Linked DNA regions of Homo sapiens: region 2 is linked to region 1. A link means that fine-mapping ties the variant in region 1 to the expression of a gene that starts in the linked region. Tissue or cell type: blood mononuclear cells. Region 1 holds a variant in brackets; the other region holds the start of a gene. All regions are shown on one strand. Distances are between the middles of the regions.

Region 1 (8,177 bases):
CCAGCTAATTTTTTTTTTAATTTTTGTTTTTTATAGAGACAGGGTCTCACTAGATTGCCCAGGATAACAACGTCTTTTAAAACATGAAACCTCTTGGATAGGAGAGTATTTAAGGTCAACTAAAAACAATAAAAAAAAAATTTAAAGAGAAGAAAACATGAGACCATACTTAGAAGTCACAAGAGCGAACTTCGTGGGACAAAGGCTGAGCCCTTGTGTCAGGTCCCTTCGAGCTGGAGTTCAATAAGAGACTAAGCTCTCCTACTTCTGGGTCTTGGCACAGTTCTCTCTTTTTGAACTGACTGATTAACTGATTGAGACAGGATCTCACTCTGTTAGCCCAGGTTGGAGTGCAGTGGCGAGAATATGATTCACTGTAGCCTCAACTTCCTGAGCTCAAGCAATCCTCCCAACTTAGCCTCCAGAGTAGCTGGGACCACAGGCGCCAGCCACCATGCCAGGCTAATTAAAAAAAAAATTTGTTTTTTAAGAGTCAGGGACTTGCCATGTTGCCCAGTCTGGTCTCAAACTTCTGGGTTCAAGCCATCCTCCCACCTTGGCCTTCCAAAGTGCTGGGATTACAGGTGTGAGCCACTGCACCCAGCCTGTTCTGTCTTTTTGGAATGACTTTCTCTCCCTTTTTTATCTAGTTGACTCCTAGACACTGCCTCCAGGAAGCCTTCTATGCTTGGCCCTTGGCTCCCTTGAGTCAGTGCCTTTCCGCAGCTTGCTGGATCAGTCCTTTGAAGGAACTTGCTATAGTGTGCAGTGTTTTCTTAGACCAGCAACTCTCACCCTTGACACCATCAGAATCACCAGAGGGGCTTGTTAGAACAGAGATTGCTGGCCACGGGCCCCAGAGTGTCTGATTCAGCAGGTCTGCAGTGGGTCCCGAGAATCTGTGCGTCTGCTCATTCACAGGAGATGCCAGGCCTCCTGACCCGGGGAACACACTTTGAGAACCGCTGGCTTAGACCACATGGTCTAGGACAGCAGGGATCTTGCCTATTTGTTCCCCCACTGCACCTCCAGCAGCACCTCACAGTCTCAGCCATTACATGGAAAGACAAAGTCAAATAACAAGACGTAATGTAGAAGATTTCCCAAGGCCTGTGTGCTGAGCACACAGGTCGGGCCCCGGCTGGAGGTGCGAACTGTCTCCGAGAGCGCCAGGTGAGTGCCCAGCGGGAGCAGAACGGGAATGGCAGGAGGCCCGTGCTCTGGGTCAGAGCGCCCTCTGGTGCCAACATCTCAGCTCTGCACCTGGAGCTGAAATTAGGTGACATCAAGGCAGACCCCAACCGACCTCCCAGCCCCTGGTTTTCCCCTCTCAGCCTCGTCCATGTCACCACCAGGAGTAACTTGCTAAAATCCAGCTCTGACCCTACTCGCCTTTGCCCTTCTCCCAGCTTAAGCCCCGCACTTGGCTCTCCACTGCCTTCTGGACAAACCTCAGCATTCAAGGTCCTTGGCTGTCCTCTGGTGACTCTGTTGCTTTCTGTCCTTCAGTATCCTGTGGCTCTCCTCAGGCACTCTTTAATTTGTCCACACCAGGCAGGTCATGGACTTTATGCCTTCTTACAAGCTATTCCTAACAGGACTGCAACCCCACCTTCTCCTCCAGAGAAACTGATCCTTTTTAATGTCAAATGTGGCCTCTTCTGTGAAGCCTTCCTGGATTCTCCCAGGCAGAAGCGATTGTTTCTTCCATTGTGTCTGTATAGCCTAGTGCACAGGCCACTGCGGAGTGGGGTCTGGGTCCTCCTTGAGACCATGAGCTCCTTCGGGCTCCTGACTCAGCTTTGGTGTATCAATAAATGCTGGAATCTACAAAGCTGTTTTCCCTCTTCAAAGCTAAAACCCACTGTCTACTACCTAAGTCTGCATAGATCCTTAGATATTCAATCATTTATTCAACCAGCAAATATACTTGAGGCCTTTCTTCTTCTTCTTCTTTTTTTTTTTTGAGACGGAGTCTCGCTCTGTCGCCCAGGCTGGAGTGCAATGGCGCTATCTCGGCTCACTGCAAGCTCCGCCTCCTGGGTTCATGCCATTCTCCTGCCTCAGCCTCCCCAGCAGCTGGGACTACAGGCACCCACCACCACGCCCGGCTAATTTTTTTTTTTTTTTTGTATTTTTAGTAGAGACGGGGTTTCACCGTGTTAGCCAGGATGGTCTCGATCTCCTGACCTCGTGATCCACCTGCCTCGGCCTCCCAAAGTGCTGGGATTACAGGCGTGAGCCACCGCGCCCAGCCTCTTCTTTTTTTTTTTTTTTTTGATGGAGTTTCAAGCCCAGGCTGGAGTGCAATTGCATGATCTCAGCTCACTGCAACCTCTGCCTCCAGGGTTCAAGCGATTCTCCTGCCTCAGCCTCCCGAGTAGCTGGGATTACAGGCATGTGCCACCATGCCTGGCTAATTTTGTATTTTTAATAGAGACGGGGTTTCTCTATGTTGGTCAGGCTGGTCTCGAACTCCTGACCTCAGGTGATCCGTCTACCTCGGCCTCCCAAAGTGCTGGGATTATACGCATGAGCCACCACACCCGGACAAGGCCTTTCTTCTGGCAGGCATTAATCAATTCCAGTGCAGGGGATACAGAGGAGAATAAAACAAGACGAAGTTCCTGGCCTCTGAGCTTATATTATGGTAGGAGAGAATGACAATAAACAAAATACTGTGTATTAAATACTGTTAAGCCAAGCTGTGCTAAATTGCATAGAGAAATTAAGCAGGGTAAAGGATAGAAGTTGATGGAGTGGTTCTATTTCAGGCAGTGTGGTTAAGAAAATACTCACTGATGGCCGGGCGCAGTGGCTCACACCTGTTATCCCAGCACTCTGGGAGGCCGACGCGGGTGGATCATGAGGTCAAGAGTTCGAGACCAGCCTGGGCAACATGGTGAAACCCTTTCTCTACTAAAAATACACAAATAAGCTGGGCATGGTGGCACACACCTGTAATCCCAGCTACTCAGGAGGCTGAGGCAGGAGAATCACATGAATCCCGGAGGTGGAGGTTGCAGTGAACCAAGATAGGGTCACTGCAATCTAGCCTGGGCGACAAATCGAGACTCGTCTAAAAAAAAAAAGGAAAAAAGAAAATACTCACTGATAAGGTGGCATTTGAGCAAAGACACAAACAAAGTGCAGATGTGAACCGTGCATGTGTCTGGGGGGAGGTATTCCTGCAGCGTGCAAAGTCCCTGTGATAGGAACGTGCTTAGCATGCTCTAGAAACTGCAAGTTGGCTGGTGTTTTAGGTCAGGCGATCTGGAAGCAGACTCTGAGAGGATTCCTGTATAAGTGATTGATTAGTGCTCCCTTAGGGGTAGGGTGGGGAATAACCAGCAAGGGTGTAGGGGAAGCAGGGCAGGGAAGAGGAGGAAGCCAAGCAAGCGTGTGATTTCATGCGAAATCCGGAGGAAGGTAGTCTCACCCTGATCCCACGGGGGTGGGGCGGGGTGGGGTAAGGTAGAGTCGGGTAGGAAGGGGAGCTCTGGCATATAAGTTACACCTCAGTGTTTGTTCCAACCTAAGGCAAGGTTGCTGAGACTTTCAAACTCTCCTCCCATTAACATCTGGCTAGGGTCATCCCAGGGAGCTTTTTCAAGTAAATTCTCAGGCACTTCCTCTGGGCAAAGTGGGCTCCAGTAGCGCCCTATCCAAAGAGCCATAGGTACTAGGTACTAGGTGTTGGGTACTAAGTACTAAATGTTAAGAGAAAAAGCTTAGCAAAGTTGGGGGCACACACAACATGAAGGAAAAGGGGATCTTAAAAGGATCTGGGTAAAATGCTAACAGTACCTGTGAAAGTCAGTGAGGTAGAAGAACAGAAGTCAGAGTAGAATCGTAAGAGAAGAGATAGTCAGCTGAGGCCAGATCAGGTAAATCAATATCTGATTTCACTCAAATAGGCAATGTGCTGAGCTAAAAAATCCACAGCTCTCCTTGCATCTAGGGGCGGCCAGTTCCACATACTCAAATGTCGATAAAAGTCAGCTGGAGGCACCTAAGAAAGCATTCATTTCCTGATAGAGGCACCACATTTTCTTCCTTGCCACTCCCTTCTTTTTGCCTGGAATGTGAACCCGAGGCTGGGGGTAAAGCAGTCATCTTGTAACCATGAGGTCACAGTGAGGCAAATGTGAGAGTAAAAGCTTTGTACTAAGCATGGTGGAGGGGCCTGAGACCCTGGTGATGTTGCAGAGAGGCTGCACTAGCCTGGGACGCCTGTCTCTAGACTTAATATCTTTTTTTGAAAGTTAACAAATCCCTATTCGATGAAGTCTGGCTTTCTGTTACATGCCAGTGGGCATCATCCCTAACCAATACTTCCTCCAAAGAGTTATAGATCTACACAGCCTCCTACATTCTGTGAGAGCACTTGTTCCCACTCAAATGCGCTGGACGTTATAAAGCTTTTTCCAGTTTGCCAATCTTCCACGTGACAAATCCTATCTTGTTTTCTTTCGGTTTTTGTTGTTTTGAGACGGCGTCTCACTCTGTTGCCCCGGCTGGAGTGCAATGGCGCGATCTCGGCTCACTGCAACCTCCGCCTCCCGGGTTCAAGCCATTCTCCTGCCTCAGCCTCTCAAATAGCTGGGATTACAGGC[G/A]CGCGCCACCACGCCCGGCTAATTGTTGTATTTTCAGTAGAGACGGGGTTTCACCATGTTGGTCAGGCTGGTCTCAAACTCCTGACCTCAGGTGTCACCACCCGCCTCGGCCTCCCAAAGTGCTGGGATTACAGGCATAAGCCACCACACCCGGCCTATCTTGTTTTATTGTGAATATGAGTTATGAGTGAGGTTGAGTATTTTTATATGTTTTTTGTGCATTTGTGTTTACGTGAAACTACATGTTTCTGTGCCTTGCCCACTTCCATTTGAAGGCCAAAAAAAAAAAAAAAAAAAAATCACAGCGGGCACTGGCATCTTAAGGGTTCTGAGAATTCCTGCAGCATGCAATGTGCATTTTAACTTTAGCATGGAATTCTCCAAAATTATTTGACCACATAACATATTTTGTCTTGGAAACCCTATTTCTATTAGTTAGGACTGAGCTTTCTAACTGGCATGCCATAAATGAGCCACAAGCATGTTGACCTATTCAACTACTCAAAATTTGACAAGAGCCAAAACATATTTGAACACTGTTAGATAGCTTCCTCTATGAACTTCCTGAATTAGGTAATAATTATTTTGGTGGTTAAGATTTTATTCAAAGCACTTGCCGCCAGAAAGACTTTGTCATGGCCACATTGTCCCACACTCCACAGAATAGTCTGACTATGATCCTAGTCATGATTTGTTTATCTGTTTATCAGCTGCAACTGATAAATTCTTCTTTATTTTGCAAGTACATATAAAATATTGGCTTTTCTTTAACTTAATAATTTTCTCTTATTTTTCTAACATAAAAGTATGGATATTATTATTTAATGTTATGTGTTTCCCTATAGAAAATGAGTTATTTTGGGCAGGGCATGGTGGTGCACGCCTGTAATCCCAGCACTTTGGGAGGCCGAGGCAGGCAAATCACGAGGTCAGGTGTTTGAGACCAGCCTGCCCAACACGGTGAAACCACATCTCTACTAAAAATACAAATATTAGCAGGGCATGGTAGCACACACATGTAGTCCCAGCTACTTAGGAGGCTGAGGCAGGAAAATTGCTTGAACCCAGGAGGTGGAGGTTGCAGTGAGCCAAGATCACACCACTGCACTCCAGCCTGGGCAACAGAGCAAGACTCTGTCTCAAAAAAAAAAAAAGAAAGAAAGAAAAGAAAATGAGTTATGTTGTTAATTTTCTCAATTGCTGTTTCTTGATTGGGGGAGTGTCTGTTCATTTTTAATGTTAACAATGAATACAGTTTGTTTTTTATTTTTTTATTTTTTTTGAGATGGAGTCTGGCTCTGTCACCCAGGCTGGAGTGCAGTGGCATGATCTCAGCTCACTGCAGCTTCCACCTCCCGGGTTCAAGTGATTCTCCTGCCACAGCCTCTCAAGTAGCTGGAATTACAGGCATGCACCACAATGCCCAGCTAATTTTTGTATTTTTAGTAGAGTCAGAGTTTGGCCATGTTGACCAGGCTGGTCTCGAACTTCTGACCTCAAGTGATCTGCCTGCCTCGGCCTCTCAAAGTGCTGGGATTACAGGTGTGAACCACCGCGCCTGGACGCCTACAGTTTGATTCTTGATGGAATTTCAGGATGAGTTATTGTTTGCTTTTAAAAATGAAAAAATGGGGCCGGGCGCGGTGGCTCACGCCTGTAATCCCAGCACTTTGGGAGGCCGAGGCGGGTGGATCACGAGGTCAGGAGGTCGAGACCATCCTGGCTAATACGGTGAAACCCCGTCTCTACTAAAAATACAAAAAAAAATTAGCCGGGCGTGGTAGCGGGCGCCTGTAGTCCCAGCTACTCGGGAGGTTGAGGCAGGAGAATGGCGTGAACCCGGGAGGCGGAGCTTGCAGTGAGCCAAGATAGCGCCACTGCAGTCCAGCCTGGGCAAAAGAGCGAGACTCCGTCTCAAAAAAAAAAAAAAAAGAAAAGAAAAAATGGTCTGGGTGTGGGGGCTCACGCCTGTAATCCCAGCACTTTGGGAGGCCGAGGTGGGCAGATCACTTGAGCCTAGGAGCTGGAGACTAGCCTGGGCAACATGATGAAACCCTGTCTCCACCAAAAAATACAAAAATTAGCCAGGTGTGGTGGTGCACACCTGTAGTCCCAGCTCCTCAGGAGGCTGAGGCGGGAAGATCATTTCAGCCTGGAAAGTGGGGGCTGCAGTGAGCTGTGATTGCACCACTGCACTCCAGCCTGGGCAATGGGAATGAGACCCTGTTTCAAAAAAAAAAAAAGGTTTCTAAAGTTAACATATACCTACTCTGACCCAATGTTTCCAGTTCTAACTATTCATTCAATAGCAACAGGTGCATATGCCCACAAAAAGACATGTGCAAGCATGTGTGTAGCAGCTTTATTCATTACAGCCCCAAACTAGAAACAGCCCAAATGTTCAACAGGTGAATGAATAAAGAAATTGTGGTATATCCATACAATGGAATACTATTTAACAATAAAAAGAAATAAACTTTAGCCATAAGCAACAACAAAGATGGATTTCTCCAACATGATACTGAGAGAAAAAAGCCAAAAAAAAAAGAGTATGTACTATATGATTCCATTGGTGCAAAGTCCTAGAACAGGCAAATCCAACCCACAGTGATAAAAGCCAGATTAGTGGTTATGAGTGAAGAAGTTAAGTCACCTTGCGGAAGGATTGAAATTGTCTCTATTTGAATCTGATACTTTTTTTTTTAGCCAAAAAAAAAAAAAAATCTATAACATAGAGATGTGGTCTTGCTATGTTGCCTAGGCTGGTTTCAAACTCCTGGCCTCAAGCAATCCTCCTGCCTCGGCCTCACAAAGTGTTGGGATTGCAGGTGTGAGCTGCTGCGCCTGGCCTAAATGAGCATTTTGAATAGACTAAGATCTGTGTCCACAATGGATGAGTCTGTGTTTGCAGCAGGTGGCTACCACAACAAGGTATCAAGGTTTCACAAGATCGTTCCAAAAAATCCTGAGATTCAAGCAATACATTTTTTTTCTTTTTGAGACGGAGTCTTGCTCTGTCGCCCAGGCTGGAGTGCAGTGGTGTCATCTCAGCTCACTGCAACCTCCACCTCCCAGGCTCAAGCAGTTCTCCTGCCTCAGCCTCCTGAGTAGCTTGGATTGCAGGCGCGCGCCACCACCCTGACTAATTTTTGTATTTTAGTAGATACCGGGTGTCAGGCCTCTGAGCCCAAGCTAAGCCATCATATCCCCTGTGACCTGCACGTATACATCCAGATGGCCTGAAGCAACTGAGGAACCACAAAAGATGACATTCCACCATTGTGATCTGTTCCTGCCCCACCCTAACTGATCGATTGACTTTATGACAACACATCCTCCTAATGCACTTTGTGATATTCCTCCGCCCTTAAGAAGGTACTTTGTAATATTCTCCCCGCCCTTGAGAATATACTTTGTGAGATCCACCCCCTGACCACAAAAAATTGCTCCTAACTCCACTGCCTATCCCAAACTTATAAGAACTAATGATAATCCCACCACTCTTTGCTGACTCTTTTTTCAGACTCAGTCTGCCTGCACCCAGGTGAAATAAACAGCCCT
Region 2 (8,177 bases), 25 kb after region 1:
CTGCGTCTGGGCCAGATGGTTTTAATGACTAGATAATGACTTTAGAGAGAAGGGATCCTAGAACTGAGGCTTGGGGCAATGTTTATAGTTCAGGATAGAGGAAAAGGAAGAGGATCTAGGTAGGGAGATCTAGAAGGAGAAACCTGTGAAATAGGAAAAAATGAACAGCAAGTGGTTTCCTAGAAGCCAAGTAAAGGACACCCACCTTTTAAGGAGGAAATGATCAGCTGTGACAAATGCTCTTAGGGAAGTGGTCAGTTTGGGGGCAGCTCTGGGGCTGTATAGCTGCACCTAGGAGCCCAAAAGGAGACTGGGCCTATGGTGGGGGAGAGAAGCAGCCCAAATATGTAAATACATACACATGCGCACGTGCACACACACATATGCATTCATGCCATGCACATACAGCCACACTGTTGTCTATTTTTTTTTTTTTTTGAGACGGAGTCTCGCTCGTCGCCCAGGCTGAAGTGCAGTGGTGCAATCTTGGCTCACTGCAACCTCCGCCTCCCAGGTTCAAGTGATTCTCCTGCCTCAGCCTCCTGAGTAGCTGGGACTACAGGCGCCTGCCACCACGTCTGGCTAAGTTTTGTATTTTTAGTAGAGACGGGGTTTCACCATATTTGCAAACTGGTCTCGAACTCCTGACCTTGTGATCCACCCATCTCAGGCTCCCGAAGTGCTGGGATTACAGGCATGAGCCACTGCGCCCAGCCCACTGTTGTCTTTATTTGGGACTTACGGACATTAGAGATTGGAGTCTAGGCTGATGTACAAAGAAGAGGTCTGAGAACATGGAGGTTAATTTTTGACGAGATCAGTTTCAGTGAAATTATATGAGCAAAATATCCAGATTGGAATGAGTTCAAGAGAGGGAAGAAATTGAGACAGCAAAGTACAAACAACATTTTTTAGGAGTTGTGCTGAAAAGTGAAACAGAAATGGAGGGGGAGCTAGAGAATGGCATAGAGTCAGGAGAGGGGTTTTAAGATGGAACAAATTGCAGCATGTTTGCATCACGGTAGTGGAAAAGATCTACTAGACAGGGAAAGACTGATGACGCAGGAAGGGACATTCTACTAGACATTCTTGAGTTGATGAAAGGATATGGCACTTGCATACTAGACATTCTTTGAGTTGACAAATGGATATGGCACTTGGAGCAAAGAGGAGGTTGACCTCTGGGAGTGTGGGCAGTTTGTCCACAGTAACAGGAGACAACGCAGAGCTTGTGCGCAGATAAAAGTGGTTGGTGGATATGAAAAATCTACTGATGGCTTCTATTTTCTCGTGAAATGGGAAGCAAGACCACCAGCTGAGGAGAATATGGGGGAGGAGATGGAAGAGCTTTGAGGAAGAAGACAATGTCAAGTGGTCATTCAGAGGAGTGGTTGGGTGAATGGCTCATTTTTCCATCTCCCATAGCATCTTCATTACCTCAGCAAGTATGTTCTCAGCATCTGTTATGTTCCAGGCACTTTGATAAACATCAAATGCTTCTTGAAAGAAGATGTGGCTGTAGAGTACCTTCAAAGACAACCCAAACTTTTTTTTTTTTTTTTTGAGATAGAGTCTCACTCTGCCCAGGCTGGAGTGCAGTGGTGGGATCCTAGCTCCCATTGGCCTTGAATTCCTGGGTTCAAGCATTCCTCCAGCCTCAGGCTCTGGAGTAGCCAGGACTACAGATGCGTGCCACCATGCTCAGCTAATTTTTGTATTTTTTGTAGAGATGGGGTCTCACTATATTGCCTAGGCTGGTCTTGAACTCCTGGACTCAAGAAATCCTCCCACCCTGTGTCAGCCTCCCAAAGTGTCAGGATCACAAGTGTGAGCCACTATGCCTGGCATTCCAAACATTTTTTAGATTTGGAGCTGAATGCAGCATGGGCAGGTTGTCAGGGTTGAAGCACTGGTGATCCAGATCTGGAAGGAGCCAGAAGCCTCTAAAAGAGGCCACTGCAGGAGCCTCCTGACCTGGTTTCTGGGAATCCATCTGCTTCAATGATTTTCCTAAAACACAAATCTGATCCCATCACATCTTTTTTTTTAAAACTCCTTCAGTGAAGATAGTTAAGAACTTGTGGCAGACTGCTTCTAGAGAACAAAACAGGAACACTGGGGTACAGAAATAAGAGATTTACTTTTCATGGATACCCTTGTGTAGTGTTTGGGGAAAAATTATAACCATGTACATATATTCACTATTCAAAGGAAGGTCAAAAGCCTCTCAAAAGTTTCTACAGCTTTCCACTATCCCTAGGAGAAAGAGAAGCCTTTACTTGGTCTATAATGCTCTTCACCGTATGGCCCTACCCAACTCTTCAACCTAATCTCATGTTAATCTCGCTTCCTGTGGCCCTTGTGGACTTGGCTAGACTGGCCTTCCAATTCAGCTGTGCCGGCCTCTTTGGGCTTGTACACAGGCTTTTCCTTCTGCCTCACTTTTAAAAAAAAATTATTATTACTATTTTTATTTTATTTATTTATTCTTTGAGAAGGAGTCTCGCTCTGTCGCCCAGGCTGGAATGCAGTGGTGCAATCTTGGCTCACTGCAACCTCCACCTCCCAGGTTCAAGCTATTCTCCTGCCTCAGCCTCCTGAGTAGCTGGGACTACAGGCACCCACCACCACGCCCAGCTAATTTTTGTATTTTTAGTAGAGACGGGGTTTCACCATATTGGCGAGGCTGGTCTTGAACTCCTGACCTTGTGATCCGCCTGCCTCGGCCTCCCAAAATGTTGGGATTACAGGTGTGAGCCACTGCGCCCGGCCTACTATTATTATTTTTATAAGAAACGGGGTCTCGCTATGTTACCCAAGTTGGTCTCGAACTGTTGGGCTCAAGCATGTCTCACTTTCTTATCCCCGCCTCTCCCTTTCCCATCTTTGCCGTCTACTTAGGTCTCTGCTTCAAAGTTACTTTTTCAGGGCGGGCTTCCCGCCTGAATTCCCAATCACCACCGGACTTGGGTCAGTCCCCGCGCTGGGCACTCACTGCCCCGGCACCAGCATCTCTGCAGCAAGCACCCATAACAACCATAAAGTGTAATGAGCTGCTCAGTGTGCCTCCCTACATCGTTAGTCCGAGGAGAGGGTCCCTCGGTGCCCAGCACAGTGCGTGGCACAGTCGGTGCTCAGGGAGCGATAGCTAGATGAAACCGTACTTTTCGGGATCCTAGTCCATCCAAAGCAGCCGCCTTCGGGGCAGGTGTGGGGAGGAGGGAGGCCGACGAGGAGCCAACGCCGCGCGACCCTCCGCACTTCCGTCTTGGAGGCCAGGGTGGCGCTGCCGCCGTCCCTCGCCCGGAGGCAGAGATGCGCTGGCGCATCACCGCCAGGAGCCCACAGTGAAAGACCATCGGATGGAAGGCGACGCCCAGAACTCCAGGAGACCGCTGTGGGAGGACGCGAGGCCAGGTGACGAATAGGCCAGGCGTGAGTTCCCAAACAGCCTCCTCCCCTTCAAGAGAGTAAGCTTGGGCCACAGGCTGGGACGGAAGCAGAGGGGCAGACACGCCACCACCCGCCCGGCCTCGAACCTACGGCGGCACAGTTCAGCGGAGGCGGCCCAGCGGTCCTGTCCCGCGCCTGCGCACTCCAGGCCCCGCCCCGCCCCGCGCCCTCCAGGCCCGGCCCGCCCTCCAACCTCTGCGTGCGCACAGCCTAGAGCCCGCCTCCGTGAAAGACTGCCGGGCGCATGCGGTCGGGGTTGTTCACTGGCTGTCCGGGGCTCCGCGCGCGTCGCCGGCCCAGCTCTGTCGCTGACGGGAGGATCTGAAGCCGGCCGCAGGTAGGCTGACTCCAGGGATCCCGGGGGGGATCTGTTCTCCCGCGCAGGAGTCAGCGGCGCGAGCTGAGCCCGGCGCCGAATAGCCCCGCCGCCGCGGTGACGGACGTCGCTCCTACCAATCAGGGGCGAGGTGACTCGGCGTCCTGCCCAATGGGCTGTGTGCCTAACGGGAGTGGGGCGGGCGCCCCGGCCGGCGAGCTGCCGGCTCCCGCGCGCGGGCCTCGTGGCCGGGCGGCGCTGGGGAGAGGGGCCAAGCGGGGCGCGGGGCGGCTTCAGAGGCTGCGGGGCCTGCGCTGCCGCGCTGGGCCGCGCCGAATCAGCTCGGCCGGGCTCGTCGGACGGAGAAGGCCGTAGGGGAGTGGAGCGGCGCCCCCCCCCACACCCTCCGCCCTTGCTCTTCGTCTGCGAGGAAGCCCGGCAGTCGCCCATCCATTCAAGCAGTGCGGGCCTCGGGCCTCCGGCCTCGGCGCGGGCTCAGCCGCCCGGGGCTGGGCGCGGCAGCTCCGCGCCGTAGGACGAGGGGGCCTGCGAACTCGCCGGCCCTGGGCCCCGCGGCTGGCCTTTGGGCCTCACGGCTTCCTCCCTTCCCGGCGGCCGGGGGTCGGGGCGCTGGCGGTGTATAGAGCTCACCACGTTTGCGTGGCGCCCTTCCGTCCACGCTCGTTACAGTTTCGAATCCTCAGCGGCCCTGTGACGCGGGCGGCGCAGAGATTCTCACCCCCATTCCCCTAGGTGAGAACCCGCGTTGCAGGCAGCTCAAGTGACATGATTGAGGTCTGCACACTAGTGATGGGGGCTGGCACTTCATCTCATAACATTGAAAGAAAAAGCATTTCCCCCCTCAGTCTTTGTTGAATTTCTCTGATGCGTCTTGATTTACGTTACTTCTGTGCCGGAAAACCTTCTTGCGCCTTCCGTCACCTTCAGGATTAAGTTCAGATTGGGCATGCCAGTTTGCACATGATCTGGCCCTTGCCTACCTTTCCAGTTTATCTTCCACTGTATATCCCTGCTTCCCCGCCTTCCCCCTCACGGCCTTACCTCTGTTCTCTGTAGCTGCCCTGCACCTGCCTGTTCACCCTGTTCCCTTTCCTGTGCTCTGAGTCGTGCAGTCAGTCCTTCAAGGCCCATTGCAAGTCATATCTACAAAACAGGAGCCGCCTGGATCCGCCCACTACCCCCAGGACTTGTCTCACCTTCCTCTGATGGCCATGGTACTGAAAGCGTCTGCTCTCATCGTCCCCCTTTATAGTCTAAACATGTTTTCTGTCTGCTTCCACCGTCACTGAATTACTCATTTATTTGTTAATGTTTCATCTCTCCAACTGGACTGCCAGAAAGTTGAGATATGGGCCCAAATCTGATTAATGTTTGCAGTCCCCAAGCACAGTAGCTGTCATGTAAGTCAGTAGCCCATAAGGATGAATGAATGAGCCTCCCGCCTGATCTTTATGTACACTGGCATATGTATTGCCAGGCACTGAGACTGCAAGAATCTAAAGAGAGAAACTAAAGAACGTAAAGAGAGATGTTAAACTCTTAGAGTAAAATTGGGACAAATCAAATGTAATTGGATGAGATGAATCTTTTGTAGAAGTAACTCACTCGGTGGCAGAGGAATTTCTAGGATCATCCAAAACTTAGGGAGACCAGGGTATAGTCTCAGTAAGGTATATGTCTGGTTAGAACATATCTAAAATGTACCTAAGACTGATTTTCATGTGTCAATAAGGAACTGTAAAGTGAGAGACTTAGGGTCAGATAAGCTTGGAGACACCGCATACTGTATAGCAGTGATCACAGTGCGAGTTTACTTGCTAAACACTCCCAGGATTCTTGCGTTAAATGACTTGGTTTAATCAGCGTTTCTCTGATTTATATCCATAACACCCTTTTTGAGAATCCCATGTGCATTTTGTTGAAACCAGGGAGCATGCTTTTGGAAATGCTGCAGCAGAGGATGCAAAGAGCCTTTGGAGCGGGGAAGACTTCTGAGCATTCTTCCTTCCCTGCCAAGTGTGTTCTTTCTTGCTCTGGGGAGGGGGTGGGGCGGGGGAATGCTTCGAGCACAACTCCTTAGTTTTCTTGTTCCTTAGTTTATTTTTATCATAATTTGGCTTCACATGGAACGTTCCTGAGGAGGAAAATGTCCTGACCATGCCAAAGTAAGCATTTTCTGCTACTTTCTAATTGTGTTTTTCATTTTGGTCACATTTGGGTTTGCTGACCAAATGGACGATCCTGGACCTCTGAAGCTGGGGACCAGTGATAAATCCTCCGTGGTGAGCCTGTCACGGTCTCCTCACCTCTTGTCGATGCTGTTTTCACCTGCATCTTGACTCTGCTGCCCTTATATCTTATTTCTCCTTTCCCTGCCACCGTGGCACTGCTTTTTGGATTTAATCTCATCTCCCCTCTCTTTGAGTCCTCTGCCCGTCATGTGCTTCAGACTGGTTTCTTATCTGATGTCCCTCTCCCCCAGTATTTACAGTCTCTCTTCATTGCATGCCTGGGAGAGATTTCTGACAAGGAGCAAGTTGTTGTTAAATTATAGAAGAGAACTACTTTTTCTTTTTTTTTGAGGTAGTCTTATTCTGTCGCGCACGCTGGAGTGCAGTGGCATGATCCCAGCTCACTGCAACCTCTGTCTCCTGGGTTCAAGCGATTCTCCTGCCTCAGTCTCCTGAGTAACTGGGACTACAGGCGTGCGCCATCACAGCCGGCTAATTTTTGTATTTTTAGTAGAGATGCGGTTTCCCCATATTGGCCAGGCTGGTCTCGAACTCCTGACCTCAAGTGATCCTCCTGGCTCTGCCTCCCAAAGTGCTGGGATTACAGGCATGAGCCACCATGCCCAGCCAGAGAACTACTTTTAATTAAAGGAATTTTGGTTTAGCTGCAACCACTTTTAAATGTTGATGTTCTTTCCTTTTAGTCTATCTTTTGTAACCTAGAGGAGCTGTGTTTTCTTGATGATATGTTGTAGTTTAGCCAAAGACATTATTTATTTCCTGGAGAACTGGAGTACTTATCCAAGTTTGAATTTTTTTCCCATGTAGGGAAAATAATGAGGCACCTGCCTGGTATCCCAGTGTCTGGCAGTGATGTCAGCAAACATTTGGGGTGTAGTGTTCTATCAGCCAGCTTAGAGCTGGTTTTATTAGGTTGACTCTGAAGGTTATTAGTTGTCAAAGCTTTAAACAAAAGCTGTGTTATTAGAGTAGCAGTTGTTTTTCTACACGTATTTGACTAAAGCCATTCAGTGATCCAAGAAATGTTTGTTTTGATCCTATTTAAACCTGACGAGAACCTTCTGAAGTCCTGTGACAGAGAAACTGAGGCTTCAAGAGGGTTCATAGCTAATAATTGGCAGAGCCAGTGTTTGAACCCAGATGAGTTTGGTTTGTTGAGATACATTTATATCATCTGTAATTTTTCCTTCTTCCAGGTCAAAGAGTAAAATGAAGTACATTCTGGTTACTGGTGGTGTTATATCAGGAATTGGAAAAGGAATCATTGCCAGCAGTGTGGGCACAATACTCAAGTCATGTGGTTTACATGTAACTTCAATCAAAATTGACCCCTACATTAACATTGATGCAGGAACATTCTCTCCTTATGAGCATGGTAAGCACAGTGGATTTCTTCATAATAATTGCATGTGGCAGAACATGTCAGCACTTGGGAATTATGTGCACGGTTTGCATAACTTTTATTTTCTGCCTTCTAACAGGTCCCTTAATACAGCAGAATGATACTTTTCTCACCTAGAAAGGAAGAAGCAGAATTCTTTTTTTTTTTTTTTTTCTTTGAGACAGGATCCCACTCTGTCCCTCAGGCTGGAGTGTAGTGGTGTGATCATGGCTCGCTGCAGCTTCCACCTCCTTGGCTCAAGCGATCCTCTCACCTCAGCCTCCTGAGTAGCTGGGACTACAGGTGTAAATCACCATGCCTGGCTAATTTCTAAATTTTTTGTACAGGTGGGGTTCCACTGTGTTGTCCAGGCTGGTCTTGGGTCCTCCCACCTGTAATCCCAAAGTGCTGGGTTTTATAGGTGTGAGCCACCATGCCCGACTGCCTTTTACTTCTTTGTTGTTATTGAGAACCTGTCAATGGTGTGACATACAGCTGTGGCTGTTACTTCAAAGATTAATTGCTTAAAACTGGGAGAGATGTTAAAACATACCTCTTAAGTTTTAAAATTCTGCATTCGTACTCCTACTCTCTAGCGTTGAGGTGAAAATATGCAAGCATTAAATGTCACTAGTGCAGAAATCCTCGTAACAAATGGCATCAGGAAAAGATCCATATACCTGAGTGATATTTAATACAGAATTCTTGAGCAGAGGATGAGTTATCTCTCTGAGGGAGAAAATGAGACTTTTTT

The links. PIP is the estimated chance that this variant, and not a neighbour inherited with it, causes the effect.
Region 2: CTPS1 starts here. The variant in region 1 is fine-mapped to the expression of CTPS1 in blood mononuclear cells (TOPMed, PIP above 0.99).

The regions. Positions count from the first base shown.
Region 1 is chr1:40,951,433-40,959,609 of GRCh38, forward strand. No RefSeq gene overlaps it. Among named protein-coding and RNA genes, the nearest start is that of CTPS1, 24 kb to the right of the region's middle. The variant G/A (reference allele first, on the strand shown) is at 4,617.
Region 2 is chr1:40,976,040-40,984,216 of GRCh38, forward strand. It overlaps CTPS1 (CTP synthase 1), which reads left to right and starts at 3,657. Exons shown (of 19, transcript NM_001905.4): 1 at 3,657-3,790; 2 at 7,239-7,417. The coding sequence starts at 7,252. RefSeq lists silencers at 3,446-3,635, 3,906-4,195, 4,266-4,405 and an enhancer at 4,606-4,655.